3 separate regions of the Homo sapiens genome follow, and regions 2 and 3 are each linked to region 1. The links come from fine-mapping of genetic effects on gene expression. A gene starts in region 1. Each other region holds a variant in brackets. All regions are shown on one strand. Distances are between the middles of the regions. Region 1 holds the start of ZFAND5 (zinc finger AN1-type containing 5). Region 2 overlaps LINC01504 (long intergenic non-protein coding RNA 1504). Region 3 has its middle 75 kb from the start of ZFAND5.

Region 1 (10,976 bases):
TGAACTCCTGACCTCAGGTTATCACCTGCCTCAGGTGATCCGCCATGTTGGCCAGGTTGGTCTCGAACTCCTGATCTCAGATGATCCTCCTGCCTCCCAAAGTGCGGGGATTACAGGCTTGAATCACCTCACCCAGCCCCAAAGTATTGTTTCTGAGACAATCCCAGAGCTAACTACTGAGATTAACAACCCACACTTAGCTTGTTCAATAAAAAAAATTTCTTAAGAGTTGAGACCAAAATATTTTGTTTCTTAAATGGTGTTTACAACAAAATATATATACATAGTAAATCATCAGTTTCCTTCAACCTAAGTTCTTGATTTACATAAACGATTAGGCAGGCCCAGCTCGATGGCTCACGCCTTTAATCCCAGAACTTTGGGAGGCAGAGGTGGGCGGATCACCTGAAGTCAGGAGTTCAAGACAAGACTGCCAGATTTTGTTCTCTACTAAAAACACAAAAACTAGCTGGGGGTGGTGGCGGGAGCCTATAATCCCAGCTACTAGGGAGGCGGAGGCAGGAGAATCGCTTGAACCTGGGAGATGGAGGTTCCAGCCTGGGCGACGAGAGAGAAACTCCATCTCAAAAAAAATAATAAGAAAATTAAAAACAATAAAAGCTTTTAGTTTTTCAAATAGTCTCAAAAATTGTTTAATGCTACGTTGATAGTATCTAGATAGTGTCAGAAAGTCTTCTCTAATCTGGTAAGATATCTATGTCTTTTATTTGAAGATTCTTTGATCAAGTTATTTTCAGAGAAAATAATTAAGAATTTTAATTTACCAAAAGGTCTATATAATAATGAAATTGCAACTTGCTTTATCAATTTCTTATTTATTTATTTTTAATTTTTTTTGAGACAGAGTCTTGCCTGTTGCCTAGGCTGGAATGCAGTGGCATATTCTCAGCTCACTGCAACCTCCACCTCCCAGGTTCAAGCGATTCTCCTGCCTCAGCCTCCGGAGTAGCTGGGACTACAGGCACCCGCCAACAAGCCCGGCTAATTTTTTATATTTTTAGTACAGACAGGGTTTCACCGCGTTAGCCAGGATGGTCTCGATCTCCTAACCTCCTGATCCGCCCATCTCGGCCTCCCAAACTGCTGGGATTACAGGCGTGAGCCACCGCGCCCAGCCTTAATTTTTAAATTAGTGGATTTGCTCTAAATACAATACTATAATCCTTTTAGCCAATTATTTTGAAAATACTTCTATAAAACAGTCCTTTACCTTGATCTTTGAAATCTGGGAAGGGGCTGGGAACGAAAGGGAGGAAGGGCACTATGTGAACGTCCAGTGACACATCAAAGTTTTGTGCTTTTTGTGTGTGGGTTTGTTTGTTTGTTTGTTTTTTGTTTTTGAGAAGCAGTTTCGCTCTTGTTACCCAGGCTGGAGAGCAATGGCGTGATCTCCGCTGACCGCCACCTCCACCTCCCGGGTTCAAGCAATTCTCCTGCCTCAGCTTCTGGAGTAGCTGGGATTACAGGCACCCGCCACCACACCCAACTCATTTTGTATTTTTAGTAGAGACAGGGTTTCACCATGTTGGTCAGGCTGGTCTCAAACTCCTGACCTCAGGTGATCATCCCGCCTCAGCCTCCCAAAGTGCTGGGATTACAGGCATGAGCCACCACACCCGGCCACTCTGAAGTTTTTAAGACCCTAGAAAAGGCTTTGTGCTTCACCATGTTCTACTCAAGCACAGACAGAAAATGAATAGTTACTTATGACCAAGTATTATAATAATGTCATAGCAGCAATTCTTGTCTCCATAATAGGAACTTATATGTCAAGATAAAATAACTTCAGGTCTTTTACATTTTACAGTGGACTAATAACTTATATTGCTATTTTTAAGGGATGTCAGTTTTCTCTAAGAAATTTAATTACATTTGCTCTTCTCCCATCATCAATCCCCTTTCCAGGCCTAGTTTACAAAGAAAAGTGTAAGAGAACCTGCAATGACTTTACCTGAGTTCTTAAGCAGACTACCAGGTTACCTACTTTAAGGAAATAAGCCTGGCTCCTTTGGCCATGGGGATGGTTGGAACTCAGACCTGGGTGAGTTTTCAAGATCCGTTATGATTGGTTATATGCTCCCATAGCATTCTATGCTTTTCTTTCAAAATATTTACCAGTTCATAATTATATATTATATGATAATATCTTTCTCCCCAAATGACAGTAAGATCCATGAGAACAGGGTAACATCTTTTTTTTTTACATGAATGTATATCCCAGCACCAAGTTAAGTGAGTGCCTGGAAAGTAGCAAATGTGCAAAACTTTTTTTTTTTTTTGAGACAGAGTCTCGCTCTGTTATCCCAGGCTGGAGCACAGTGGCACAATCTCGGCTCACTGCAACCTCCACCTCCCCAGCTCAAGTGATTCTCCTGCCTCAGTCTCCCGAGTAGCTGGGACTACAGGCACCTGCCACTCGCCTAGCTAATTTTTGTATTTTTAGTAGAGACAGGGTTTGGCCATGTTGACCAGACTGGTCTCCAATTCCTGACCTCAGGTAATCCGTCTGCCTCCACCTCCCAAAGTGCTGAGATTATAGGCGTGAGCCACCACACCTAACCAATATCACATTTTGAGCACGACCAACTTTGCTCATTATCTGTTTTTTTGTTTGTTTGTTTGTTTTGTTTTTGAGACGGAATCTCATTTTGTCACCAGGCTAGAGTGCAGTGGCATAATCTCTGCTCACTGCAACCTCTGTCTCCTGGGTTCAAGTGATTCTCCTGCCTCAGTCTCCCGAGTAGCTGGGACTACAGGCACGCACCAACATGCCCAGCTAATTTTTGTATATTTTTTAGTAGAGACAGGGTTTCACCATGTTGGTCAGGACGGTTTCAGTCTCTTGATCTCATGATCCACCCCCCATGGCCTCCCAAAGTGCTGGGATTACAGGTGTGAGCCACCACGACTGGCTACTCATTATCTTTTTTACAGAGGTTGGTTTCAGGCCAAAGTTGACCTTCCCTAATGACTATAGAGCAAAGCCCTTTGGCATGTTATATTAGAAGCATTCTCTTATATATTCTGTGTTTAGCAATTCAGTTTGTCTTTGGAGTGCAAGTGAAAATTTAAAATATAAGAAAACAAAAATAAAACAAAAACCTTCTTAGAAGTATATCCCTTAATCTGTTACACCAGTAATATGAGACTTTTTTTTTTTAAACTTTTCCCTTTCACATGGTGTGAGCCATCTGAAAAAAAGAGGGGTCACCTGATGCCATGGTAGGGTTAAGTCAATAGTTTTCAAACTTGTGTATGCATCAGAATCACCTGGAGGACTTATTAAGCCACAGACGGCTGTGCTAACCCCCAGTTTGTGACTCCACAGGTTTGGTGCTGGGGCCTGAGAATCTGTATTTCTAATAAGTTCCCAGGTAGTCTGGAGACCACATTTTGAGAACCACTAGAAAATAGCTGCTAAAAAGGAATCTTGGTATGTTTAGGTCCAATACCTGCAACATTCTTGATTGAAACAGTCTCAGAGAAAATTATAAATGGGTGATAGAGAAGATGAATTATCAGAAGGTGACATAATATTATGGAATACACTATTCAATAATGAGCTTGCCTCATTACCCTTAGACTTTTTTTAAAGTATGCTTCTTCAGGAATTATCTTGTTTCACTCACTATAACTCCAATTCTAGAGAAAGAAAAAAATTCAAGTTAAAATTCAAGTTATTTTTGTTCTCAATAATAATCACCTCCATTGCCTCCCTGCCCTTCAGTGCCCTGGGCAAGCCTTTTTAGTCATTGTTTCTTTATCTGTAGAAAGGGACATGATAATAGTACCTATCTCAGTGAATTGCTGTGAGGATAAAATGAGACCCTAAATGGAAAATAGTTGGCACTGAAAATGGCCTGTAAATGGTAGCTGCTATTTTTTTTTTTTTTTTACTAATTCATCTGCTAATTTAAGGAAATAAATTGCAGTGGTCGTGGGACCAGTGACCCAAACTACTTAAATCTCTAATACATTAATTGATCACAGTAATAAACCCGAATTTGTTAAAAAACAAAACAAAAGGTTGTTATGCTCCAGGTACTTTGCTAACTGTGGCGGAGAACTGTTTGATTTGGCAGTGGTGGCTCAAGCTATCAGTATAGCATTCCCCCAAATACAGATTATAAATAAGGACCACCTGAAGCGCAATATGGGCCCCCCCCCACCCCCGCTCCCACCCCGGAACAACCAAAACCATATCCAGGGGAGATGCGTAGGAATCTTTAATCACCCCAGGTGATTTTTTTTCTGATTACCAACTTTGAGAAACACTGAAGGGACCTCTTCTCCATTCTATATGTGGCTAATATAAACCCTAAACATCATTTCTATGTATTCGTTAGACCGTTGTTTACTAGAAAATTTCAGAAGTCCTTTCCGACTTAGTAATTTTGTTATTTTGAGTTGAACTGAAATTCACTTGGAGCGGTCAGTTGAAAATGTTTTTTGTTTGTGCTCTGAAAAGGTTCCCAGTGTTCCGGGTAAAGTCATCCTTTCACCCATGGGGGACCTGTGCCTCGTGCCTGAACTGCCCGCCTAGTACCTCCCCCCTTGAACTTCCTCTCGCAAGCCTCCTCCTCCCGCTTCATCTGGGCCTCGGGTCTAGCTTGTTTTGTCCCTTCGCGGCTTTTGAGTAGAACATTTGGTGCTTTCCCAGTTCACGACGCTTTGCTGGAATCGTCAATTTCCAGGGATTTCACAGGCTGGCCAAAACAGTTTGTTCAGAACAGCGCCGCCGGGGCATTGGCAGCCCTGGGCGGCCGCGCGTTTCCTCACTCCGCACAACCACCCGTGACCTTGGGCGAGCGAACGCACGCCGCCAGCTGCGTCAGGGCCACGCTCGGGCTGGACTTCGGAGCTCAAAATGGGTGTGGGGAGTGAGGAGGTTTCATAAACAGAAAAGACCTCGAAGCCATAAGGCAATTCTTTTCCTTTTCTGGGGGTGAATCCTTACGATTCTTGGGGGAGGGAATGTCTGCCCAGGGCTGGAGACAAAGCGTGAGAACTAGGATGGCGAAAAACGGGTTTGAATGAGAAAATCCGAAGGAGGGAGGCTGAGGGCGGACAATTGGGTTAAAAATAGAAACGCATCCTCCACAGGACTCGCTCTTCCCAGCTCCACCCTAGGGGCCGACTGCCAGGCCAGTGGCTGGGCTCCGCGAGAAGGCACAGCAACCCGTCTCGGCCCCGCCTCCTGGACCTACTGACAGGGCACCGGGGGCGTGGCCTTGGGCCCGCGACGTCACCGCGCTCCCCGCCGCCGCCGCCGCCGCCGGGGTTTTCGCTGACGCACGGGTCCCGCCCCCTCCCCCTCTTTTCCCTCACAGCCCGGGCGCCGGGCGGCGAGTGCGTTAGTCGGCCGGGACGCGGAGCTGTGTGCATCTCCTACGCGGGCTCGCTCGCTCCCGGGAGCCGCGCAGCTTCCCCGGCGGTGGCAGGAGCGGCGAAGAGCGCCATCAGCGGGCCCTTACGGCCCCAGGCCTCGCGGCGCGCGGTCCGCTCGCCCTCCTCGTCCGCCCAACCTGCGGCCTGTGGAGGCGTGAGGCGACGACAGGCGAGCGCCTCGAGCAGCGTTAGCCGCTGCGGCCGCCGGTCCTCCCTCCACCTCCTCCTCGGCCCCCCCTCGCTTCCCTCCTCCCACTTCCCGAGCTCCGGCGTGTCCCGGCCACGCTCGACGCTGCTGCAGGAACAAAGGAAGACCCCGCGGCGGCGGCGGCGCCACCTCCGCCTGCTGCTCCGACCCGCTCCCGGCCCGCGGCGGCGGCACCAGGGCGCCCGGCTCAGCCTTCCCGGAGGCCTCGGCCCGGCCTCATCGTGCCGGCTTCGCGCGCGAACCCGGCTTTCGCATTTGGGACCCTGCAGGGTGAGTGATACGGGGCTGCGGGTGGGAGCCGGGCTCCTTGTTGCCGGGCCGGGGGCGGGAGTGAAGGGACCGGGGCGCCGCGGGCCAATGGCGAAGCCGGAGCAGGCCGCGGATGGCGGCGTCCGGGGGAGGGGAGCCCGCCCGCCAGCCCAGGAAGCACAAAGACGGAGGCGTCATCCTGTCGTCGTGGCCCGAGACCTGGCTCCCGGCGTCCCTGGCTCGCTCCACAGCACGGTCGGGAAACAATGCACGGCGTGCCGCCTCTGCGGGGCCGGCCTCTAGGCCGCTCGCCTCCGCGGCGGCGCCCGGCGTGGGCACCACGACCCAGAGAAACAAAGAGGCCGAGGCGGCGGCCGCGCCCCCTGCCCGTTGCAGCCCCCCCTAGCTCTCCCCTAAGAGGAGCCGTTCGGGGTCGGGGGTCGGGGGTCGGGGATCCGCGTGGGGCCTGCAGGCGAAGGGCTGGCCGGGCCTGCTGAGCTGCTGTTCTGCATGACTCAGTGGTTTTCGGAGAGGGCCCTGTTGGGCTTTATTGAGTGAGGCCTTTGCTTAGAGGGGGATGGGGTATCAGTGGGACCCGAACTTGTTCCAAAATCCATTGGAACATGGGGCCGGGGGTTCTCGGCGTCGTCTTTTGGGCTTCTCGACGTCGCTGCGTTTTTATCCTGAGATCCGTTTTCATGGAGGAAATGGAACACCTCCTTTGTTTGGTGCATTTAGGCTGATGAATGTGAAATTTTTTGCTCGCTTTCCACGCACTCCGTGGAGGTGTGTTTTCGGGGAAGGGTCGGATTATCTTTATTGATTGAGTGTCTCCTAAGGGATAGCATCTAAGGAGATACCAAGATAAAGGAACATATAGGTCACACATCCCCGTTCTTAAACCTGGGATTTAGATACAGACTTCTAAAAACATAAACGAATGTATTTTATTCCTTATTTTTAGGATTTTTTTTAAAGAGTAGGCTTTCAGAACTCAGTTGGTGAAAATACTGCAATTTTATCTTTGAAGTTTTTTGTTAAAATGTTTCCCCACACCCCCCTAAAAAATTAAGGATTCTTTGTAGTTGTCTCCTGTTTTCTATCTCCCAGGCCCTGAAAAGGAGCCTTTAAAAGTCAATTCTACTCCATTTGGCAAAGAGGGAACTGAAATCTGGAAAGTAAGGACTTGCCCAAGGTCACTGACTTAGTGGCAGACTAGAGACTTGAACTCAGGTCTCCATTCCCAGGTGAGTGGGAATTCATGCCATCTCATCACATCATGTGCACCTGAAAGAACTGTATTCCATAGGTGTAAAAGCTCTTTGTTCAGAATTGGAATTGGAGAATTGTTCAGTTACACTCGGGTGTTTTTTTAAGCTGTAAGTTAGAGGAAGCCATAAACTTTATAAAATCTGCATTCTAGCTATACCTGATAGAGCTGACACGTGCATGCTCAAGTTGCTAATTACTTTAAAGGCAATAAATAGTAATGGTATTTTTTTCTAAAATACAAGGGGAATGCAATACCTAATGGGAACACACATCCCCCACTTCATCCCCTAAATCCTCACTAAATGAGGATTCTTTTTTACACTGTCTCCACTGTGCTTAGTTTTTTATCAACAACCTTGACCATTTTAGCTTTGACTATGCTTTCATCTTCTAGATTGAGATTGTTCTGTAGTTTTTCCTACATTAGGAAAAAACTAGCAGCCCTTTTTTTGTTTTCTTATGTTAGATATATGAACGCTGCATCCTTAGTTCTTGGGGTTGTGTAGGAGTTGGCAGGCTTTGAGATATAAATAGAAGCTGATTTCAGAGGCCCCTGTTGACTAGGCTTTATGTGAGAGCCTCCATCCAGCTCAGCTTGTCACATTGCAGCCTTGTGACAGGCTGAAGCGCCCTCCCATGTGATCTGAGCTTCTGAGAAATATTAAAGCAAGCTGTGCACATGTGATGGCATTTAAAAGCTGGCTTTCTAGGGGAAAAAAATCTAAAAGATGGGAACCCATGTAGAAGACTCATGTCCTGGTACCTCTTGTGTGTCTCGCAGTTGAAAGTTATTTATAATGAAATGAAGGTAGACATGTTCTCTGAAGCAAAGTTGGAATACTTTGTTATCTCTGAGTGTGTGAAATCTTTAGATGGAGTATCCTCCATTTTATCTAAAACAAATATTTTAAGAATCAGATTAACTAAAATTACTTAGGTAGGTTGATCGCTTGGCCTTAAACTTTAAAGCCAATGTCACATGAGACTGGGCCTCAGTGTAGAAAATGTAAGCTAGCATACTTAAACTGGTTTTAAGGAGTGACCCAACTTTCATGCATAGGGCAAACATTCACACATATTTTGTGCGTGGTGGGCATGCAAATACATACATATTTATCATTTGAAAGCATTTTTTGCTCCTATTATGCTCATTTAAAAACCCAGCTGAAAGTGTTTATTAATAAACTTCCTAAGTGATGTTGAAATGTTTACACTACCCTGCTCCAAAATGAGTCAGCTAAATTCCAGTTAATATTTAAAGAGACAGTGTCAACTAAATTAATACTGTTGTTAAAAGTAAGTTGTGGATCTTGGTCACTCCACACAAGCTAGATTGTCTTAATATTTGTATGGTGCACTTTTACTTACAAAAGGGAAGATAAAATGTTTTGGGGAATAATTACCAGGGGTCTGGCCAGGTCAAAATTGGTTAGTCCCCTTCTCCCATCTTCTAATTTTGGTAGTTAATACTTGTTAAAACATCGTTTTTTAATAACTCACTAAAAAGTGTATTCTAGTATGTAGTTGGAAAAAATGACTGACCACAAGTTACAGCACACGAATTTTCCTTTAAGCAAATGCTCTCAAATATGCTTTTTGTACATATGCTTATACATGTTTAAGATGACATGAAAACCCTCCACAACTTTATTTTAAAATAATTTTTCTTTAATATGTATTTTCTCATCCAGAGGAAAACTTATTAATAATTTAGCACAGCGTTTTAACAAGACTTTTAGAAAAGCAAATCTTCCTTGGAAACAAATGCTTGCTATGTAAAGCTTTTTCTGGTAACCCAGCATTGAATATTAACCATTACTAAAGGTTATGTGTATATATTGACTTTAATACATTGAATTTGAGCTTGGAACGGTTTTATTATTTTCTGGTATGAGGAAGACAAGCACTTGTTAAAATTAATAGTGCCTTTGGCTGAGAAATCTGGTTCATAATTTGTGTATTGCAGGTTCCTAGGCACTGGCTTTGACATACTCTGAAACTTCAAATGGAGAACGTAAAAGGAGTTTCGTAAACCAGCTGACCCTAAATTCTTAGAGATTTACTTGTTGGTGCCAGGGTAGCAGGAAGGGCTACCAGTTCTCTTTTCAGCCTTATATGAAGATGTTTCAGCATTAAAAAGTACAGATGCTCTGCCTCAGCAGATTTGTCAAATTACTGATGAAGCCCAGATATGTACAGGTGTTTTAAGAAAACTTTATTCATCCAGTTTAAAGAACTACCTATAAATATCAAGACTCAGTGATAATTGTGATTAGCCAATTAAGTAAAAACATTTGAAATGGTCTGCCTGTAGTGCAGCAGAGTGAAAAGTTAAAGATACCAGTTTCCCAAATTGATTAAAACATAACCCTGAGAGCTAACAGACCTTTTCATAAATTGAAACCAAGAATAGTGATAGGTAAAAATACCCTAATAATTGATAAAATTTCTTTTTGGGTTTTTTTTTGGTCCTAAAACAGTTTGCTTTTATAAAGGCAACAAAATATTGATAATTATCTCTGCCCACCCTTTTTAATGATTAACGGAATTTGGGCTTTTGTTAAAACTTGCGTAGCAATTACAACGGTATACCGATGATTATATTAGACTATATTTTGGTGATAACACTAATTTCTGAAATTTCGTTTCATCTATAGCAGAAAAATATGGCTCAGGAGACTAACCAGACCCCGGGGCCCATGCTGTGTAGCACAGGATGTGGCTTTTATGGAAATCCTAGGACAAATGGAATGTGTTCAGTTTGCTACAAAGAACATCTTCAGAGGCAGCAAAATAGTGGCAGAATGAGCCCAATGGGTAAGTTATTTCCAAGGAAAAACACATTTGAAAGAACTGGTGGACAGAAATACAGAACCAAGAATTGGGGCTGAGAATGCTGAAAGCACATGGAGAGAACACCTGATAAGAGCTTGAAATTCAAGCAACAGCCCAAGTGCTTGACATGACTGATCAGGAATGAATGACTATCTACAAGCATCTTATAGCTTTTCAGTTTTCTTTTTTGGGGTTATTTTGTTTCACACTTGTGTTCATTGGATTGACTTTTTAATATTTTTTGTTTGGATACTCAAGTATAGGATTACAGCACAGTGAATGCTTATATCACTAACCTAATTAAATGCAAGTATTTATTACTACGTCTTGATACTAAGTGAGTTTTTGTAGTGTTCATTGGTTCCTTACAAATCCTTTTTTTAAATAGGAACAGCTAGTGGTTCCAACAGTCCTACCTCAGATTCTGCATCTGTACAGAGAGCAGACACTAGCTTAAACAACTGTGAAGGTGCTGCTGGCAGCACATCTGAAAAATCAAGGTAAGATTGAACGTTTCAGAGTTTTTATGATATTACAAAGAAGAAATCAAGATGTCTGTACTGGTCCAATAATAAGTTAATAGATACCCTTGGCTTTGCAATCGAGGATTTCAGTGTCTTTTAATACATGACTCTTAAGTCATTGAGTAAAGATGTGTGTTACTTACACCTGACTCCCTAACCCCCTCAAGGATACTGTGTTGGAAATGCTGTGCTTTTTTATTTCTTTGTAATTGAGGTTTAGGGATTGTCGAGTGAGACTGTAGAATATTATTGGGCCAGACAAGGTGTTTTGGCAGAGCTGCCCTTTTGCCCTTAAACAAGTTACAGGCACAGCTAAAAATCCCTAGCTGGTTGTAAAATATGGTAACCTATACAAAATGCAGCCTCGAGTTCATGAGCCATTTATCAAACTTTTTTCTCAACCATTTGTGCTGGGCATCCAATTTTTTTTTAAACTTTAGATTATCTAGCTCCATTTGCTCATTTTGGAAATATTCTAT
Region 2 (10,976 bases), 40 kb after region 1:
CACCCGGCTAATTTTTTGTATTTTTAGTAGAGATGAGGTTTCAGGAGGTCTCAAAACTCCTGACCTCAAGTGATCTGCCCGCCTCGGCCTCCCAAAGTGCTGGGATTACAGGCGTTGAGCCACCGCGCCCAGCCAAAGTGGCAAAATTATATTTAGTAAAAGGGAAAGGAGTAAGGGTGGTGGTGAGAGAAAAGGCGGTGAGTGAAAACCTTCATTCAAGACTTTCATACACAATTTAACAGCTAACACTTTGATAATATTGAGGGCTTACGTGTGCAAGTGTTCTACATAAATATTACCTATGAAGTAGGTAATATTTTTATTCCCCACTTTGAAGATGAGAAAACTGAGACTCAAGGTTATTTGCTCAGTCACAGAGCTAGTAAGTGATAATGCCAGGATATTCAAACCTAGACCCAAGTGCACTCATGCTCTTAACCACTGTGCTATCTTGCTTCCCTGAAGACTCTAACAACATTTGGTCCTCAGAACCTATTCCTATGAAAGGATTTCAATGGCTCTTGAGCACTTTGCTCTCCATGACTTTTCCAGGAACCATGCTGATATTTCCATTGTTGACATCATCCCAGTGCTGCCTGCAGTTGTGTTTCCTCTTATTTATTTTCCTTATTGGAAACTAGAAGCTACAGTTATTAAATGCATTCAAATAGAGCTGCTCAGGGGAACAGACTTTCATGAAGGCCATACTCTTTAAAGGCTAACATAAAGCTTCCAAGCTCCCCCACCTTAGGAATCAGAGAAGGATGAAGGGCAGGAGACCCAGAGAGAGATTCTGTTGTCCTGACCTGAGCAGTAGACTATTCTATGCTTGTTCACCAAGAATGAGTAGCTGGGAGAGCAGAAATCCAGTTTAGGAAATATCATTCCCCAAAGAAGGAAGTCATTAACCAACATTTCTTCCTCTCTGTTAAGGTATGTGAAATGTAAGGAGAATGATTAAGAACCTAACAGGTAACAGTGATTAAGAGAAGAGGACTGGCCATCAATGGTAGACTGGATTAAGCAAATGTGGCACATATACACCATGGAATAGTATGTAGCCATAAAAAAGGATGAGTTCATGTCCTTTGTAGGGACATGGATGAAGCTGGAAACCATCATTCTGAGCAAACTATCTCAAGGACAGAAAACCAAACACCACGTGTTCTCATTCATAGGTGGGAATTGAACAATGAGAACACTTGGACACAGGGTGGGGAACATCACACACCGGGGCCTGTCATGGGGTGGGGGGAGGGGGAGGGATGGCATTAGGAGGAATACCTAAGGTAAATGACGAGTTGATGGGTGCAGCACACCAACATGGCACATGTATACATATGTAACAAACCTGCACGTTGTGCACGTGTACCCTGGAACTTAAAGTATAATAACAAATGTATATATATAAATTTTTTTTAAAAAAGAGAAGAGAATTGGAATCAGATTGCTTGGGTTCAATTCTGGTTTCATGACTTACTAGCCAAGTGAATCTTTGTGCAAATTACTTCAACTTCTCCAGATGTCAGTTTCTTCATCTGTACAAGGAATAATAATAATGCCTATTTTATAAGATTGCTGTGAAAGTTTAATGTAATTATCTATTTAAAGCTGAATATAACAAGTGCTAAATAAATATTAGATATTTGTTAACACAACTTGGGAAAGCAGGTGGTGAGGGTTGTATTAGCTTCCTAGGGCTTCTGTAACAAATGTCCACAAACTGAGTGGCTTAAAACAATAGAAATTTATTCTTCACAATCTGGGGCCCAGAAGTCTGAAATTTATGTGTTGGCAGGAATTCACTCCCTCTGCATTCCAGGTGCCTATATCCCTCCAATCTCTGCCTCCATTTTCACATGGCGTTCTCTGTGTGTCTTCTCTTCTGTCTCTTTAAGGACACTTATCATTGGGTGTAGTCCAGGATGATCTCATCTTAAGATCCTTCACTTACTTACATCTGCAAAGACCCTTTCTCCAAATAAGGTCACATTCACAGGGTCCAGGTTTTATTTATTTATTTATTTATTTATCTGTCTATTATCTGAGTGGAGTCTTACTCTGTTGCCCAGGCTGGAGTGCAGTGGCATGATCTTGGCTCACCACAATCTCCGCCTCCCAGGTTCAAGTGATTCTCCTGCCTCAGCCTCCCGAGTAGCTGGGACTACAGGCATACGCCACCATGCCCAGCTAATTTTTGTATTTTTAGCAGAGATGGGGTTTCACTACGTTGGCCAGGCTGGTCTTGAACTCCCGACTTCGTGATCCACCTGCCTTGGCCTCTGAAAGTGCTGGGATTACAGGCGTGAGCCACTACGCCTGTCCGGGTTCAGGTTTTAGAACAAGGACCTATCTTTTGGGAGGCTGTCATTCAAACCACTATAGGTGTTCAGAAACGTTTTCACTTCTCTTTTAACTACTTTCATTCCACTTTTGGCCGGGTACAATCTTTATGCTGTTTCCTAAATGCTGATGGTTCTTCCTTGACTTAGGACACTTTGCTAACTCTGTTAGGCTCGGTGCCATGGAGGATATAAAAATAAAACATCCTGGCTGGGCACAGTGGCTCATGCCTGTAATCCTAGCACTTTGGGAGGCCAAGGCGGGAGGATCATGAGTTCAGGAGTTTGAGACCAGCCTGGACAACGCAGTGAAACTCCATCTCTACTAAAAATACAAAAATTAGCTGGGCGCGGTGGTGTGTGCCTGTAGTCCCAGCTACTCGGGAGGCTGAGGCAGGAGAATCACTTGAACTCGTGAGGCGGAGGTTACAGTAAGCAGAGATCGTGCCACTGTACTCCAGCCTGGGCAACAGAGCAAGACTCCATCTCAAAAATAAATAAATACGTAAACAAATAAAATTTAAAAAAAAATCACAGACCACAAAGTAATACAAATCTGCCATGATCAAGGCCATCAGAGAAGTATAGATGAAGGCACTTAGAGGATGAGAGTTTACTTTGAAAATAAGCTAATAATTGAACTAGGTGATGGGTACATATGGGCATGTAGGTTGGGGTGTGTAGGGCTCCTTCTACGTAAGTGGAAGGAATAATGAAAGCAAATGTAAAGAAGTAGGATAGCATGGAGTATGTATTGAAAACAGCAAATTGATTTTGCTTTGGAACAGGGATCAATAAACTGGCCCATCCAGCCTACCATCTGTTTTTATATGTGCCCTGAACTAAGAATAATTTTCATATTTTAAATGGTTGAGAAAAAACAAGATAATTAAAAATTTATAACATGAAAATTATATTAAATTCAAATATTAGGATTCATAACTAAGCACAGCCACACTGTTTTGTTTACATATTGTCCATGGCTGCTTTCACACTACAATGGCAGAGTTGAGCAGTTGCGACAGAGACCACATGACTGAAGAGCCTAAAATATTTTCTGTCTGGTTTTTTTTTTTTTTTTGATGGAGTTTCCCTCTTGTTGCCCAGTCTGGAGTGTAATGGTGCAGTCTCAGCTCACTGCAACCTCTGCCTCCCAGGTTCAAGCGAGTCTCCTGCCTCAGTTTCCCCAGTAGCTGGGATTACAGGCAGATGCTACAATGCCCAGCCAATTTTTGTATTTTTAGTAGAGACAGGGTTTCACCATATTGGTCAAGGCTGGTTTTGAACTCCTGACCTCAGGTCATCTGCCCGACTCAGCCTCCAAAAGTGTTGGGATTACAGGCGTGAGCCACCATGCCCAGCCTCTATCTGGTTCTTTATAGAAAAAGTATGCGGCCAGGTGTGGTGGCTCACACCTGTAATCCCAGAACTTTGCGAGGCCAAGGCAGGCGGATCGCTTGAGCTCACAAGTTTGAGACCAGCCTAGGCAACATAGTGAAACCTTGTCTCTACCAAGAATACAAAAAAATTAGCTGGGTGTGGTGGTGTGCACCTGTGGTCCCAGCTACTCGGGTGGCTAAGGCGGGAGGATCGCTTGAGTCCCAGAGGTGGAGGTTGCAGTGAGCTGAGATCATGCCACTGCACTGCAGCCTGGGTAACAGAGTGAGACTCTGTCTCAAAAGAAAAAGAAAAGAAAAAGTTTGCCAACTCCTGCTTCAGAAGAACCCTCAGGGGCATAAAGGAAATAGCAGAAGAAGATATGCTGGTCCAGTATTGCCATTTGGCCTTTGGTAACAGCCTACATTCTTGACTTTGCTCAGCCTTTTTCTACCCACCTAAATTTTCCCATCCCAAATATTATCCTCTCAAGACCTTAATTGGTTATTTGCTAAGTAACCTGAGAGCTAATTTTGCGATCTTTTTAAAGCTGTGATTGAATCATAACAGTTTAATGTATAACTTATTACTCCTCCTAGGTAACATATTTGGAATTTAGGGGAACCCAAACCAAAAAATTGCTTCCCCCTGGCAGAACAGTGGGAAAGATATTTGCAAAAGTGAGCCTTCCTTCAACTTTCATGTCACACCTTATAGGCAGCCAATTCTACCTATCAAAAGCAAACTTGGTTGTTAGTTTTGCTGTTACCCTTTCAATTGGTTAAGTTACTAGTATGCCATTTGCTGCTAAGTTTACCCTTAGGGGAGAAAAATAACGGCAAGAATTACTTTACAATAATTGTCAACCACTGAGAGTTAAGTCTCTATGCCCCCTTTAGCTAATAAGGTAGGCCTGGGTAGCTATCATTAAGTCAAAGATTTTTTCATGAAGGAGGAAACAGCTCCCTGATGAATTTGAGATGAGATTAGAAATGCTGAAAGCAGTGTTCTCAAACTTTAGCATAGAGAAGAAC[C/T]GCCAGAGGTCTGTTAAAATACGAATCCGCTAATCTTACCCCCAGAGAATCTGTGTCTCCAGTGGAACTCAGGAGTTATGGGGGGAAAAAAAATGATGAAGGATCCAAGCTACCTCCCACAAAGCAGTCTTTATATTTGGTTCTTTACTTGCTCCAAGAATCCCTAAGTTGTTAAAGTAACAGACAATGTAAGTAGACAGAAGCATCATTTTGAAAGACTTTCCTGTTCTCTCATTCTGTTTAACTGACCTTTATTCCCAGTGAGTAAACATGAATCAAACCCTAGTCTAAGTAAGAAAACGTGATTTGAGGGAAGGGCTGGATCTTTGAAAGCAGTATAGAATGGAGGTTAGGAAGGGAACTCTAGACAGAGGCTGCCTGATTCAAATCTCACCTCTGTCACTGGTGCTATGTGAGCTTGGGTGACAACTCGAATCTCTCTGTGCCCTCGTTCCTTCATCTGTAAAATGGGAATAACAATATTATCTATGTCTCAGAGTAGCTGTGAGCATTAAATGAGTTACTACATGTAAAAAGCATAAAATAGAAACTTTTAGTACATTTCAATAAATATATAAAAACTTATTGGAGAAACTCTTGTGTGACCTCACATACCTTGTAAGAGTGGCATGAGAATTAGAGCATGTTCATAATTAAACAATTATGATTGTGCTATTTACTCCAAGTTAGCCAGGGGCTTGTTCCTTAGAGACCACTGTCATTTTCTACATTTGTCCATGAAGTTAATCCACATATTTACAAATCCTAAATGTAACTTTACTTTTATTTTCAATAGGTAACAAGTATTAAGAACCATATCACAAGGACTTTGATAACTGCTTGACTTTGTGTGCTTTATCTCATTTATTTCTCAAAAAAAAAAATTCCATGGGGTAAGTACTACTACTAGCTCCATTTTACAGATGAGAAACTGATGTTGGCCGGGTGTGGTGGCTCACGTCAGTAATCCCAGCACTTTGGGAGGCCGAGACGGGTGGATCACCTGAGGTCAGGAGTTTGAGACCAGCCTGGCCAACATGGTGAAACCCCATCTCTACTAAAAATACAAAAATGAGCCAGGTGTGGTGGCGCACGCCTGTGGTCCCAGCTACTCGGGAGTCTGAGACAGGAGCCTTGCTTTAACCTGGGAGGCGGAGGTTGCAGTAAGCCAAGATCTCGCCACTGCCCTGCAGCCTGGGAGACAGGGGAAGACTCTGTCTCCCCCACCCACCAAAAAAAAAAGAAAAAACAGAAAACTGATGTCACACAGCTAGTAGGTAAGTGCAGCTGGGACTCAAATCTAGGTTATCTGGCCCCATTCTTCTGTGGCAGTAGTTCTCAACATGGGGCAATTTTGCCCTAGTGGTAGACTGAATAATGGGCCCCCAAACATGTCTACATCCTAACTCACAGAACCTGTGAACATTACCTCACATGGCAAAAACACCGTGCAGATGTGATTAAGTTAAGGATTTGAGATAAGGAGATGAGCCTGGGTTATGCAGGTGTGCCCAAGAGAATCACGACAGTGCTTCTAAGAGGAAGGTAGAAGGAGTCAGAGTGGAGGAGAGGGCGATAGGATGACAGAAGTCAAGTTTGGAAAGATGCACTTTGAAGAGGTAAATGAGGACACAAGCCAAGGAATATAGGTGGCTACTAGAAGTTGAAAGAAGACAAGGGAATGGATTCTCCCTTCAGAGCCTCCACAAGGAACCAGCCCTGCTAATATTTTGATTTTAGTCTCATAAGACTCATTTCAGACTTCCAACCTCTGGAACTGTGAGAGAATAAATTTGTGTTTAAGTCATTAACTTTGTCATAATTTCTTACCACAGCAATAGGAAACTATACCACTCTCCAGGGCACACATGCCAGTGTCTAGAGACATTTTTTCCTATTGTAGCAGGAGAGGTGGTACTACTTGGTAGTATCTAGTGGGTGGAGACTCAACCTCCTGCAAGACACAGAGCAGTCTCCCACAACAAATAATTATCCAGCCCAAATGTCACCAGTGCTTGACAGAGCAGGAGCACCGTCATGTTGGACAAACACCACCACTTTAAGTTCCAGCTCTCTTTCTAGTGTCATGCATTTCAAGGAAATCACTTCTCTTCTAACTACAAGCAGCCAGAAAGAGCAGACAGTAAAACACAGATAAACAGAGGTGGGGGGAAAGGCTCTTGGGTAACTGCCAAACTTCGCCCTCATACAATGGGCCCCGGTAAAACAGTGGGCCCCAATAAGCACATTCCTTTCCCTTCAGGTGCACTAAGTTAGGGAAGCTAAAAGCAGAATTGGGGGGTATGCCTGCAGCTGCAGAAAGATGTATGGGAACAGACACACAACTCTCCCTCCCAGATAAGCACAACAAAGAGACACAGAAGCAGTCCAAGCCTCTGATAAACTCTTCCACCCTGAATCCTTAAAACCTCTTAGTGTGTAAGAGAGTGGGCTCTGACCTAACTCGGCCAGAAGCCCCTCTCAGGTTTGTTTTCTAAAATAAACCTGTCCTTGTTGACTGTCGAGCCACCCTTCATGTTTCTTTCCTATTTCTTTAATTCTTACAGTGCTGAGGTTGAGAAACCCTGCTGTAGAGCAGCAGAACAGGAAAATCTGCACGGAATGCCAAATACTTCCAATCTGTAATCAGCCTTCTACCTAGCATAACTCAGGCTGGTCTTTAGCACATCATGGACATGGATGTTGTATTCACCTGGTTTATTGCTAACCCACTAAAATCAATTATGGTATTAGAAGAAGCTTTTTTATCTATAGAATATAGTTCATGCTCCTCCCTCTGGTTTTGAAGGCTCACCACAGCTCACTCCAACTTACTTTTCCAGCATGATTTCTTTTTAATCCCCTTTGCAAACCAAACATCCTTGGAAAAAGGGCAACTCTATGTAGCACAGGGCAGGAACGAATGAACTGTCTCCTCAATGACATAGTTGCATGCTCTTACAGCGAAGGTATTCCACTTGAGGCTAAAATTTCATGGCAAGAGTCCACTTGTTCTAGCTTGGTCATGTGCTCTCCCTAAACTAATTCCCAAGGCCAGGGCAATTCTATTCTCATTTTATCCAAAGAAAGCACTGGAGACTTTGAAGATCATGTTTATGTCTATGTCATCCTGGAATTCTCCAAGGAATGCATTCTAGTGCCTTGCACATGTTGACATGTGAATATTGTTTGAATGAATAGCAGAATGAAAGACCAACTCTCTGGGATGCATCATCTTAACCTTCATCTCTCTGTCCCTTATTTTGCAGTTATAGCATGTGATACATCATTTCTGTGACAGATTTAACCTAAGTATTTGTAGCAAAAACTTTTTAAAAACCTAAATTCCTGGTCCAGAAATATGCTATTATTAAACTAAAGTTCAGAGTTTACATCTTCATAATAGAATATAGGTATAAAGTTATTGGAAAGGGACCAGACTATATGATTATCACTCAGAAATACAGCATTTATTAAACAAATCAACAAAGAAATGAGTATAACTCATAATTAATCAGTCTGGGCTCACTACATACTTATGTTCAAACTAGTAAATATTTTAAGTTTTCTTGAATTACAGCTTTAGATCAGGGTTGGCAAACTATAGTCATGTGTCACTTAGCACTGGGGATACCTTCTGACAAATGTGTTGTTAGGTGGTTTTGTCCTTGTGTTAGCCTCAGGGAATGTACTCACACAAACCTAGATGGTATAGCTTACTACACACCTAGCTTATATGGTGTGGCCTATTGCTCCTATGCTACAAACCTATTCCTTCTTCAAAGGTAAACTAACTTTAGCTTACTGTAACATTTTTACTTTTTTAAACTATTTAATTTTTAAAAATTTTTGACTTTTATAATAAATTTAGCTTAAAACACATTGTACAGCTGCTCAAAAATATTTTATTTCCTTATATTTTTATTCTATAAGCTTTTTTTCATTTTTAGAATTTTTACTAGTTTTTTACTTTTTAAATTTTTTGTTAAAAACTAAGACACAAACACACACCTTAGCCTAGGCCTGCACAGTGTCAGGATCATCAATATCACTGCTTTCCACCTCCACATCTTGTCCCACTTGGAAGGTCTTCATGGCAATAACATACATGGAGCTGTCACGTCCTATGATAACAATGCCTTCTTCTGGGTACATTCTGAAGGACCTGCCTGAGGCTGTTTACAGTTAACTTTTTAAAATAAGTACAAGGAGTCCACTATAAAATAATGATTAAAAGTATGGTATAGGACCAGGCACGGTGGCTCACGCCTGTAATCCCAGCACTTTGGGAGCCTGAGGCAGGTGGATCATGAGGTCAAGAGATGGAGACCATCCTAGCCAACATGGTGAAACCCCGTCTCTACTAAAAATACAAAAATTAGCTGGGCGTGGTGGCATGCGCCTGTAATCCCAACTATTTGGGAGGCTGAGGCAGGAGAATCGCTTGAACCCAGGAGGCGGAGGTTGCAATGAGCCGAGATAGCACCACTGCACTCCAGCCTGGTGACAAAACAAGACTCCGTCTCAAAAAAAAAAAAAAATATGTGTGTGTATATATATATATAGTATATTAAATACATACACCAGCAAGTTGTTTATTACATTATCAAGTATTATGTACTGTACATAATTGTGCTATATATGTATATATATATAGAGAGAGACAGAGAGACAGAGTCTCCCTCTGTTGCCAGGCTGGAGTGCAGTGGCACAATCTCGGCTCACTACAACTTCCACCTTCCAGGTTCAAGCAATTCTCCTGCCTCAGCCTCCCAAGTAGCTGGGACTACAGGCGCCTGCCACCACATCCAGCTAATTTTTGTATTTTTATAGAGATGGGGTTTCACCATGTTGGCCAGGATGGTCTTGATCTCTTGACCTTGTGATCCACCTGCCTCGGCCTCCCAAAGTGCTGGGATTACAGGCGTGAGCCACTGCACCTGGCCAATTGTGCTATATTTTTATATGACTAGCAGTGTGGTAGATTTGTTTACAACAGCATCACTACAAACACTTGAGTAGTACATTGCACTTTGATGTCAAAATGGCTACAATGTCACTAGGCGATAGAAATTTTTCAGCTCCATTATGATCATCTTATGGGACTTCCCTCCCATGTCCAGTCCATCCTTTTTTTTTTTTTAGACAGAGTCTCAAAATCCCAGCAATTTGGGAGGCTGAGGCAGGCAGATCACCAGAGGTCAGGAGTTTGAGACCAGCCTGGCCAACGTGGTGAAACCCGGTCTCTACTAAAAATACAAAAAATTAGCCAGGTGTGGTGGTGGGCACCTGTAGTCCCAGCTACTTGGGAGGGTGAGGTAAGAGAATTGCTTGAACCCGGGAGGCAGAGGTTGCAGTGAGCAGAGATTGTGCCATTGCACTCCAGCCTGGGCAACAAGAGCAAGACTCCATCTCAAAAAAAATATATATATATATATGTATATATATATGTGTGTGTGTGTGTGTATATATGTATATATATGTGTTTGTATATATATACATATAGATACATATATATAACAAAGTTTACTTCTCATAGTGAAGATAAATTCTCATCACTAGTATTGATTCTGGAGCTTTCTTTTCCATGTGTTATAAGGCGAATTGTGTTCCCCCAAAATTCACAGGTTAAAATCCTAACCCGAAAACTTCATAATGTGACTGTATTTGGAGACAGAGTCTTTAATTAGGTCACTAAGTTAAAATGAAATCATTGGGGTGGGCCCTAATCCAATATGCCTGGTATCCTTGTGTGAAGGGGAAATTAGGACACAGACATCTACAGAAAGACACCATGTGAAGACGCAGGGAGAAGGCGGCCATCTACAAGCCCAGCAGAGAGGCCTCAGAAGAAATTGATTCTGGTGACACCTTGATCTTGAACTTCTACCCTCTAGAATTGTAAGAAAATAAATTTCTGTTGTATAAGGCACCCAGTTTGTGGTACTTTGTTATGTCAGTCCTAGCAAACTAATATACCATGTTTCTGCCTTTACATACAAGTAGGCAACTATCATGTCTTCTCTTTACCAACTTCAATATCTTCTTTCCCTTCATACATTCATTTTGGCTTATCCATTGTCTACCATATCTTTTTTTTTTAAATATGTTTTCCAAATATTGTATCCATTGGTTCAGCACTTCTACCTCTAGGAAATTTTCATACTAAGGAAATTATACTAAAGAAGCACAAAGCTTTATATTATACATAAAAATTTGCATC
Region 3 (10,976 bases), 76 kb before region 1:
ACTCTGAACAATGAAGGCTTGAAAAGGTTAGCTAATTTATTCAAGAGCACAAAACTTCTCCATGCCAGAGGAAGGAATCAAACCCAGGTCTATCAAAGTCTTAATTTATGTACTTCCTCATATAGAAGGCAGTCATCTAAGTGCTAAAGATATTTGGATATCAGCAAGATTTTTAAGATAGACACTGCTCTCTTGCTAGACAAAGTTGTAGTAAAGGACAGGGTTACCTTACAGATCTAGGACACAGCAGGATAAGTCAAGCTCCAACCCCTTGGTGAGACCTTCTCCAGAGAAGCAGACCGCTGAGGGACAGTTTTTGATGTCTGTGTCCTATCTAACATATACAAAACTCTTAACAGCTGGAGAGATGAATGATTCATCTAAACCCATCCCAGGAGTCCTGAAATCTTCCCCTTTGTTGCAGTGAGACACATTAACTGGAGGAGAGATGGCCTCCTGCAAATCTCCATCACAGTCAACCCTCCCATCTTCTTGTTCCACTTCCCTGTCACTCACCTATGAGATTTGGAGATAGGCTAATTTGGTCACATTATTCCTCAGCTGGTCCCTTTTGGAGAAATCTTTTTAGGTATTTTGGTCACCAACTTATTCCCTTCCTTAAAGTAATTTTTGTTAAATTCTCACCACCCTCTTAACTTTTAATTCCTCTTCCTCTTTTCCTCCTCCTCCTCCCTTTCTTTCCTCTTCCTCTTTCTCTTTCTCTTCCTTTTCTCTCTTTCTCTCAGTTGATAACTGTGCCTACCACACCTCCAGGAAACATAAACCATCAATTTTATAACCTAAAATCCAATCAACCTCCATACACATCCATTCTTCCGTTCCTCCCATGACAGAAGAAGAGGAGCCCTTCTAGGCAAAGCTAATTCTGCTGCTTTTGTCCTTATCCTGTTTACTCCTGCTTATCCTGGAGTCTGTGCCGTCTTTTATTGTCTCTCCTCTGCCTTTTCACTCCTCCTTCTCCATGAGCATCTTTCCCTTACTATAAAACATAACTAACTTGCTCCCACTGATGAATATCTTTTCTTTCTTCTTAATTCCACTTTATTTCCCAGGTGTCTGTGGAGCGTGTGCTATGTGCCAGACACTGTGCTGGGTGATGAGAATACTTTGGGAAATGAAACATCCAAACCCTGGCTTCAGGGAGCTTACAGTCTAGTGAGAGAGCAGATGATAAGTAGGCATCTAAATATAAATTTATAAATTTCCACAAATAGGGCACAGTGCTAGAGAGTAAACAGGGAGTCCTCTAAGTTAGGGTAGCCAGGAAAAAGCTCTTATCATTCCATCACTTCCATTACTGGAGTGCAGACTGTTATCTCTCACCTGGGTTCTAATGAATTCTTAACTGGATTCTCTGCTTACAAATTCCCTTTTTTGGTCCTTTTCACGTATTACTACCATAGTTCAGTGTCTAAAGCAGATCCAAACTTGTCATTCCTCTATTTGTGCCTTCAGTAGTTTCTCAATACCTGCAAGCCCAGATACTTGAGCCCAACATTTTAAAACACCTAGATGAGTAAACAGACTAGAGATTGCTCTATAAACAGAGACCAGTGCTGTGAGCAATGTTTGGTGCTGATGTTAATCTCCAGAACTCCCCTGGGCTTGTTATTTTTGACAGCCATTCTCTATTTTGATTTGTCTTCTTTAACAAAACAAAACCAAATGAAGAATGAAGAGCATCCAATGGAGGACCTAGAGCAATTGCATTCTCTCCTATGACTACTAAGTAGTTCTAAGAAACAGGTTAGGCTGTGGAACCTGCAAAGTGGAGAAGAAAGTGGCTGAAACTCTGGAGAAAGAAAAGGCCACACAGTTGACTGCTGCAGGAGACCAAATTTGACATTCTTCTTTAAAATGCTATTAGGAAAACTGGTCAACTAAAACAAAAAGAAACTAAATTTCATGAATTTCTCATTTGGTGAAATGGGCTTTTGTGAATTGGCCATTGAGTGAGTTTTCTTCAAGAGTCTAGGGGAATTTGACATTCTGACTATTTGACAGACTCCACCAGGGGGAAGTGAGTTATATGAGTCAAGATTAATGGCATGGGCAGAGGAGCTTCTGTCCCACTTCCTTTTTAGTAGCTGAGAGCATACTGTGTCTCTTGTTGCCTCTCTGTCAGCTTGTGGATAGCAAAGTGTGGGCCTAAACTTCACGCTTCCAATACGCCGCCAAAGAGAACATGGAACTTGATTGAGGGCCTGATTAGGAGCTTGATAGAAGATGTCTTGACAAAAAAGATGAGATGACCTGTTAGTGGTGAGCCAGAGATGGTTCACCGGGTCAGAGACCTGCCTATTAAATTATAAGAAACTTTGCAAGCCAGTTGTTAAACACAGCAATACTTAAAAACAAAGATATTTCAACTTACATTTAAATTAATTCTATTAAAAATAAAGACAAGAAATATTCAAAATTGTCACTCCATAGTTATTAGACTACATTTTACATATTATCTATGTTCTTGAGCTTATATGTATCTATTGTATCTGTAAGGCAGATCTTTTTCCAACTTCACATTTGGTGACACCACACTGGTACCTTGAAATGCCAAGGCAGAAATGTTTGCACCACAAAAGTCTGCAAATACCACAAATCAGGGCTCAAGTGACTCAGAACCAACTGCTAATCATACTGCGGTCTACACTGCAGGGCAGACTTCCTGTTTGAAGAGCTAGGAGAGGTTAGCACAGTGACTCATGCCTGTAATCTCAGCACTTTGAGAGGCCAACTGGGGTGGACCACTTGAGGTCAGGAGTTCGAGGCCAGCCTGGCCAACATAGTGAAACCCCATCTCTATTAAAAATTAAAAAAAAAAAAATTAGCCAGGCATGGTGGCACATGCCTGTAATCCCAGCTACTTAGGAGGCTGACACACGAGAATTGCTTGAACCCAGAAAGTGGAGGTCAAAGTAAATGGCACCACTGCACTCCAGCCTGTGCGACGAAGTGAGACTCTGCCTCAAAAAAAAAGAGCTAGGAAAGTCACACTGGACCTCTGCAGCACTAACAAGGTAAGGTCATGTCAGCAAGGATAAGAATGGTCCATGCATTACACCAGTTACAGGCTTCAGTTCATATGCCAGCAGAACACCCCAAAATTGCACCAGTCCCTCCCAGTGGTCATGAGTCCAGGGAGCAGCGCGGACCAGCCATGACACAGCAGAGACCAACAATGTCAAAAGGATGCCAAGAACTCCCAATGTCCTCTGTCCTGCTGAAGTCGCTTAAGCCTCACATTCAGATGTCATCTTGAAGAGAAACAGAGTGAGCAGAAACCTGAGAGACTGAGCACTTTATCTAAAAGAGATAAAGAATTTACCTAAAGTCATGATTTTCTTTATAAAATTGAATAAAATTCTGGTGAGACTAAAACTGCACTTGTCACCCTTTGGGTTGGGGGTGGTTGAGTGAGGATGATCTTTGCTGACAACAGACCTAGTATATAAAAAAGGAGCCATACTTTGTTGTTGTTGCGTATTTGAAAACAGCGTAAATAACTTTACACTTCTGCTACAGTGGTGATTTTGAACTTTTTTCTCTTTCTGTGACTCTAGCCAAAGAGATAGTGAACTTTTATTAAGGGATAAATACTATTAGTATCTTCCATTTGCAGATAAAGAAATCAAGCCTCAGAAAGTCTCTGTAACTTATACAAGATGACCCAACCAGGAAGAGGATGAGTCAGGTCTTGAAAGGAATGTTGGTATGTCTGCAAGCGTTCCGCCCTGGTTTTACTGCTTGTTATCAACCCTTTTCAGGCCTTTTCTAGGTCCTTTTGGCTGTATAGGTACTTCTGCAAGAACTGAGACAAAACAGGAGAGAGCATCCTCTCAGGGAAGCATCTGGAAGAGGTAACCTGGGGACAAGTCAAGTCAGGAAGACTATTACTTTAGAAACTGACCATGAATACTTTAGGATCTAGGACAAGAAATGAAATGTCACTAGAAAGGAAGTTGAGATCAGAAACTAAGTGCACAAATCATGAAGAAGGTAAATGGGCCACAGGACTGGCAGCTAATAGAGTTAAGAAACTGGGGCAATGACTGAAGTGTGGAGAGAGGTTGGCCTGTGAAGAACTAAATCCAGGAATCCTGAGCAAGTGTTCCTTTCACACAGGGCCCAGTTCATCTTGCCAGAGCAGCAGTAGCCTCATAAAGGAGCCAAACCAGACATGAAAACAGCCTCTCTTCACTCACTCCCTCCCACTGCCCTGCATGCCCCAAGACTGCTATCTCCATCTGACTCTTAGTTGTCTTGAAAAATAAGTATTTTTGTTATTTTATGGAAGTAATTTATGCAGGTAATTTTAGAAATTCAAATATAGAAAGGCTTAAAAGAAAAGCAGAAGTCACCTGTCCCAACCTACTCCTTTTCCAGTCCAACTCTTCATACTTTGCATTCAACTTCCATAAATTTCCAAATGCCCCATCCACTCCCATGGCTCACACAGAATTGCACATGCCAGAACCTGTCCCAGTATTTCTTTTCTGGTTTTATTATCCCAGAGAGATGGGGAGGAGCCCAACACAAAAGTCCCAAAATATAGAGCCTTGGTGAAAACAAATAGATTGAGAGCCAGAGTAGGCACGGGAGGGAAGCAAGGGTGTCCACCCAGGCCCCTTTTGTTTCACTGATTTCCATGGGCGGATGGATGTTTCTCCCCATTGTCTGGGGTGTATTGTATACTTTGCAAGCTCAAGGGAATGAGTCAGCTTCTCGCTCCTCCTTTGCTTCCCATCTACTGATAATGCAGCTCTCTACAACCTGTTGATCTCCATTAATAGTAAGAAGGCCATCAAACACAATTTGAGTTCAAAAACACATTTTTCCGTTTTGGTAGCAGAACTTTCTTCTGAGGTCTAGTGTTGCAGTGGCTCAAGTTTTCCTTTGTCTGCCATCCTAAAGGACATCATTCTTGTATTCACTCATTCAGCAAACATTTGCTAAGTATCCACGCTGGGCCAGGCATGTGATCAGCACAGTGGACACAGTGTAAGTGCACAGTCTGTGCCCTTGTGCTGGAATGATCTAGGAAGAAAGTCAGATAAAAAGGCCACCACAAGTCGGTTTGATGGAAGCTCTCACAGACAAGTTTCCATGGACGCATTAGGATAGGCACTGCACTCCTGATTGAGTGGTCAGGGACAGCTTTCTGGAATGGGGATGTCGAGGTGAGTTTTGAAGGCGAACTATGAGCTAGGGTATCTGTAGAATATCTAGGGGCACTGAGTGTGGCCAGAACAATCTTTCTCTGATCACAGCCCCAAAACTGCTGAGATATTCACAGTACCTGGCCAACATCTGTCAATTTTCTGGATTAACATCCTAAATCTTGACTTTTTAGGCAACGGCACCTGAATCCCAGCAGATATTGGCTGTTATAAGCCATTTCCCCAGTTTGAGAACTCTATCTTTGGTCCCAGGTCTCTGCAGAGCTAAACAAGGCACCTTGTTCCAGCAGCCAGCCCTCCCCTGCTCTTTGGGTCTGCCTGGACTTCTGGTCCAGCTTTGTTGCTTCCCGAAACCCAGTTCCAATATTTGTCACCCAGATGCTTTCTTCCTCTCAGAAGGGTCTGACCTCTTCAAGGCCCTGAAAGAGGAACTAAAGTGCTTCTCACAGCTACATCCCCACTGTTTCAAGAAATTATATGAAGGATAGAGGAAGACACATGGAAGTCTCCGGAACTTTAGCCAGTCCAGGGATTTCACTTCAGTGTTTCATACCTTTATCTAAACACTTGGGTAGCTGTTAAACTGAAATTTGTCCCAGGAAAATAATATTTGGAGCAAATAGATTGCAAAAAAAAAAAAAGGTTTTATTTTGGTGGAAAGAAAGCAATAACACTAAGGGATAGAAAAGTGGAACCAGGACGGGCGTGGTGGCTCACGCCTGTAATCCCAGCACTTCGGGAGGCCGAGGCCGGCGGATCTCAATGTCAAGAGGTTGAGACCATCCTGGCCTACATGGTGAACCTCCATCTCTACTAAAAATACAAAAACTAGCCAGCGTGGTGACGGGTGCCTGTAGTCCCAGCTACTTGGGAGGCTGAGGCAGGAGAATCACTTGAACTTGGGAGGCAGAGGTTGCAGTGAACCAAGATCATGCCATTGCACTCCAGCCTGGATGACAGAGCAAGACTCTGTCAAAAAAAAAAAAAAA[G/AG]AAGAAGAAGAAAGAAAAGAAAAGTGGAACCATTGAGGAGAGGAAACAATTCAGGTCTGAAGGGCTGACAGGTTGAAATTTCACAAGTTTGCTCAGGATTAGACCTGTTTGAAAGAAACAAGGAGAGAAACAAGGTAGGAAAAGAAGCAGGGGAAGAAGGAATAATAAGGGCACTATTAGAAGGAATGACTGAGCTGGGGCTGAGCCATAAGCAAGTAGGAGGAGATAAAATGCTAAAACTAGAACCACATAGATGGACAATTTTATAGGAAACATACATTAAAATAAGTACTGAAAACAGGCAAAGGAGAACAAGATAGCAAAGCTTGAGTGATACCATACTTGGTTCTTAGAGAATCATTTTGGCTTCACCTGATTGCAGAAAAGTCCAGCCAAAGACCCATCAAATATGCTGTTTCCTGTTGTCATCTATATGCAACTTCTAGCTCATTACATCCCTAACATGGCTTCCCCAGTAGGGAACACACTTGTACCTGGGGCAAGAGTTGCTCCTCTTAACTTGTGATGTGCAGGGCGGGTTGAGTTCTGCTAAATTTCAAAGCTAAAATTTTCGAAGCTAAAATTAAATTTCTTCTGCCCACTTTGTAAATTCCTTCTGAGTTACTTCTCTACCCCTCCCTGACTCATTTTCTGAGAGTAAATAGTCAAATGAACAGAGTCCAGTTATTTTCCGTGAGTGGGAGAAAGGGATTATAGCAACTCCGAGAAATCATTAGTCAAAATTAATGCATAGCATGAAAAATGTTACACACATGCACAGGTACATACACTTACATTCACACTTGCCACCTCCAAGAGCCTCTATCTTCACTAACAATCTGCTAAAAAGGCCAATCAAATTTTAGCCTAGATGAGGACATGTACTTTCAATTTGTCTATTTGGTACACATGGATGGCTCTTTTCTGCATATTTTTTCAATAGAGTGCCCAACAGGGAATTGTAGCTTAGTATCTTAGAGATCAACTCACTGGTGGGAAAATGGTCTGGTCAAATTGTTCACCCACTATTGAGAAGTGGATCTTTCCAATGTAGAAAAAATATCAAAGAGGGAATTTTCTACCCATGTGTATCTCTTGACAAAACTAGAGAAAAAAAGGTTACTGTGCACTAGGAGTTTAGAATAAACCTGGTGAGAACACACAAAGGAATTTCGTGAAGCACCATTGGGGACTACTTACAGGCCTTAATTGAAAGTAGTACATTTAGAAAACCATGTTACCCTGAAAACATTATTTATTTTTCTCTATGAGCTTTGGAAAGTATTGATTTGTAAATATGGGTTTCTTTGCCCACTGAGTCTTTTGGAAACATGTTCTGGTTATCTTTATGAGCCCAACCTTTCTTCCTGGCTTTATATGGAAATTAATTTCTTTTGGCACCATACTCACTTCTTGATCTAAGGCATATATGAGGTTCAACTACATCTCTTCAGAGCTTTGCAAATACTCATACTGAGTCTTTCTGGAAAAGGAAGAACTTTAACCCCATCTAAGGGAGTCTGGTGAAGAAGAAGGACTGTGGGTCACTCTAGCAAAACATAGTATTCCTTGGTTCAAGAGGGAACTAGTTAAGCCAGAGCATGCTAGGGTAAGCATTGAGGAAGAACTTTTTTTGACAAACGCAATGTCTAACAAATTCTAAAACTGGCTATCAAGGAATATCTGTAAGAGCAAACACTTGAAAGAATTACCCATGTTACATCACCATTTCTTTTAAATTGTTTAAGCAGTAAGAGGTTTATAATGATAAAAGCTCTTAACTATACTAGGGGGGAAAAGCCACACTCACAAATCACTTATATTATGAAGGCTTATTACAAAGTTACATAAGAATATCGGCTCAGGATATCTTGCCATTGCACTCCAGCATGGGCAACAGAGTAAGACTCCGTCTCAAAAAAAAAAAAAGTTATCTGCTGGGTGCAGTGGCTCTCACCTCTAATCCCAGCACTTTGGGAGGTCAAGGTGGGTGGATTGCCTGACCTCAAGAGTTTGAGTCCAGCCTGGCCAACATAGTAAAACCCCATCTCTACTGAAAATACAAAAACTTAGCCAGACATGGTGGCACATGTAGTCCCAGCTACTCAGAGGCTGAGGCATGAAAATCACTTGAACCCAGGAAGCGGAGGTTGCAGTGAGCCGAGGTCATGCCACTGCACTCCAGCCTGGGTGACAGAGCAAGACTCTATCTCCAAAAAAATAAAATTAAATTAAAAAATAAAATGTTAGTTTTAGGCCTGTCACCGTGGCTTACACCTGTAATCCCAGCACTTTGGGAGGCCAGGGCAGGCTGATCTCTGGAGGTCAAGAGTTCGATACCATTCTGGCCAACATGGCAAAATCCTGTCTCGACTAAAAATACAAAAACTAGCCAGGTGTGGTGGCTCACGCCTGTAATCCCAGCTACTTGGGAGGCTGAGGCAGGAGAATTGCTTGATCCCGGAGGCGGAGGTTGCAGTAAGCCGAGATCGTGCCATTGCATTCCAGCCCGGGCAACAGAGCAAGATTCCATCTCAAAAAAAAAGAAAAAAGAATGTGGGCTCAAATAAGAAATTCATCATTAGCCACACTCCTCCTCTAGGTCCTAGGTGTTCCAGTGTTGGGCTGCAGGCTTCTAGGAGCTTCAGAGGAATAACTCAACACTCAAGACTGCAATCCAAGCTTGAATGACCCATATTCTTCTGTTTGACTAACGTCTTTAACTTCCAGAAGAAGGAACTTGGGTGAATTCTGTATCATTCAGTATGCTGTAATCTTGTTATGTAGAAAACAAAGAAAAGCAAAAGCAAAGAATCTTGGTGTAACAAACCACCTTTCTCCATAAACAGACTCCTTGGTTAATCTACTGTGGCTAGGACAGCAGGGTTTGTTTGATTAAGAAACAATGCCATGTGGATTACTGGATTCTGTAGGAAAGAACTGGTTGGGGTCACTTTTCTTAAAAGGCTTCTTTGCCACAAAAATATCCAGTATATAAATAAGATTGAAAAAGAAAAAATAAAAGGAAAGATATATGCAACACATGTTGCAGACTATTAATACCCCCAATATTAAAAATATCTAATAAATAAGAAAAAAAATTGCAATAGAAAAAATGAAGAAATGATATTTGTCTTTTTGAGGGTGGGCTACCCAGCATCTGAATGGCCGTCTAATGCAGGCAAGTATTGGTAGAAAGTAAGCCCCCATTTTCTACTATAGAAGCCAAAGGGGCCAGAGAATCCCCCACTCATCCATTGACTATCCCGTTCAGACATCTGACATAGACTCAGTCAGTCAAGTGCCTCCACCTGGGACTCTGAGTCTTGAGGAATGGTGAAAAGACGGGAGCAAGTGAGAACTTATTCACAGTAGTGTTGAGTGTTCCAAGACAGCAGTGGTAGGTTGTAGACAGGATACCAATGACAACATATTAACTGTCCTCTCTTGTGGTATTAGATGTATTGCATTTCCCAGTGCCTAGCCCTCCTTTACCAAGCCTGGTTCTCCAACCTTCTCATCGATTCTCTAAGCTCTCCCATATCCTTCCAGCAAAATCTGTTTCTACCTAGGTTAACTATAGTTGGTTTTTGTTGCTTATAACTAAGAACCCTGACAAAGAAAATGACTGACAGTTCTCAAATGAAGCAACATATGTGGATAATAAAAGCAGGGAAAGATGTTCAATCCCACAAATAATCAAGAAATAGTAAGTAGAGAATAGGATATGCCTCATCTCTATGTTAGTGAACATTAAAAGAATTGTGAGAATCCAGTGTTGGCAAGAGTGTATGTAGGGAAACAAGCAATCTTAATAAACTGTTTTTTTGATGTTTTGTTTTTTTTTTGAGATGGAGTTTCACTCCTGTTGCCCAGGCTGGAGTGCAATGGTGCGATCTCGGCTCACTGCAACCTCCACCTCCCGGGTTCAAGTAATTCTCCTGCCTCAGCTTCCAGAGTAGCTGGGACTACAGGTGCCCACCAACACACCTGGCTAATATTTTTGTATTGATAGTAGAGACGGGGTTTCACCATATTGGCCAGGCTGGTCTCGAACTCCTGACCTCAGGTGATCCACTTGCCTCAGCCTCCCAAAGTGTTAAGAAACTGTTAACAGGAATGTAAGTTGATGCAACTTTTCCAGGGGGCAGATTGGAAATATATACCAATATTTTAAATGTGTACACCCTTTGATCAGCAATTCCTCAACTAGCATTTATCTTAAAGAGATAATTAGTCAAGGTAGAGCAGCAGTCTTGATATGACAGCAACGTTCATAATTTAAAAATGGAAGCAATTTAAACAGACATCAGTAGAGAGATTGTTAAATTATGATAGACCTTTACAAAAGAATATTATTCAGCACTAAAAAGGCAATTAAAAAGGTTTTATGTATATTTAATGAGAAACATCTGCACAGCATGGAAGAGACGAAAAGCTTTCAGAAGAAAAAGTGTTGCATAATTTCATATTTTAAATGTGGAAGGCAGAATTCTAAGATGTCCCCATGATCTCTGTTCTCTGTTATACTTGTAATTATGTTACATTACTAGAAAATGGATTTTACAATGTAATCAAGATTGCTAACCAGTTGACTTTGAGTTCATCACAAGGGAGATTATCAGGTGAGCTTGACCTAAACCCATGAGCCCTTAGTAGCAGACCTCATAGCAAAAGGGAACATCAGAAATTCAAAGTGCAAAAAGGACTCAGTGTACCTTACTGACTTCAAAATGGAGCGATGGAAGGGACCACATGGAAAGGATCTGATCTCGAAGAGCTGACAACA

What was found.
Region 2: its variant is fine-mapped to the expression of ZFAND5 in whole blood (INTERVAL, PIP above 0.99).
Region 3: its variant is fine-mapped to the expression of ZFAND5 in whole blood (INTERVAL, PIP 0.97).

The regions. Positions count from the first base shown.
Region 1 is chr9:72,359,607-72,370,582 of GRCh38, reverse strand. ZFAND5 (zinc finger AN1-type containing 5) reads left to right here and starts at 5,375. Exons shown (of 7, transcript NM_001102420.3): 1 at 5,375-5,887; 2 at 6,977-7,113; 3 at 9,796-9,955; 4 at 10,362-10,473. The coding sequence starts at 9,805. RefSeq lists silencers at 5,137-5,516, 5,527-6,356 and enhancers at 4,964-5,668, 5,669-6,372.
Region 2 is chr9:72,319,226-72,330,201 of GRCh38, reverse strand. It overlaps LINC01504 (long intergenic non-protein coding RNA 1504), which reads right to left. Exons shown (of 5, transcript NR_110952.1): 3 at 1,481-1,538. Among named protein-coding and RNA genes, the nearest start is that of LINC01504, 19 kb to the right of the region's middle. The variant C/T (reference allele first, on the strand shown) is at 4,754.
Region 3 is chr9:72,435,199-72,446,174 of GRCh38, reverse strand. No RefSeq gene overlaps it. Among named protein-coding and RNA genes, the nearest start is that of ZFAND5, 75 kb to the right of the region's middle. RefSeq lists an enhancer at 1,723-1,982. The variant G/AG (reference allele first, on the strand shown) is at 6,188.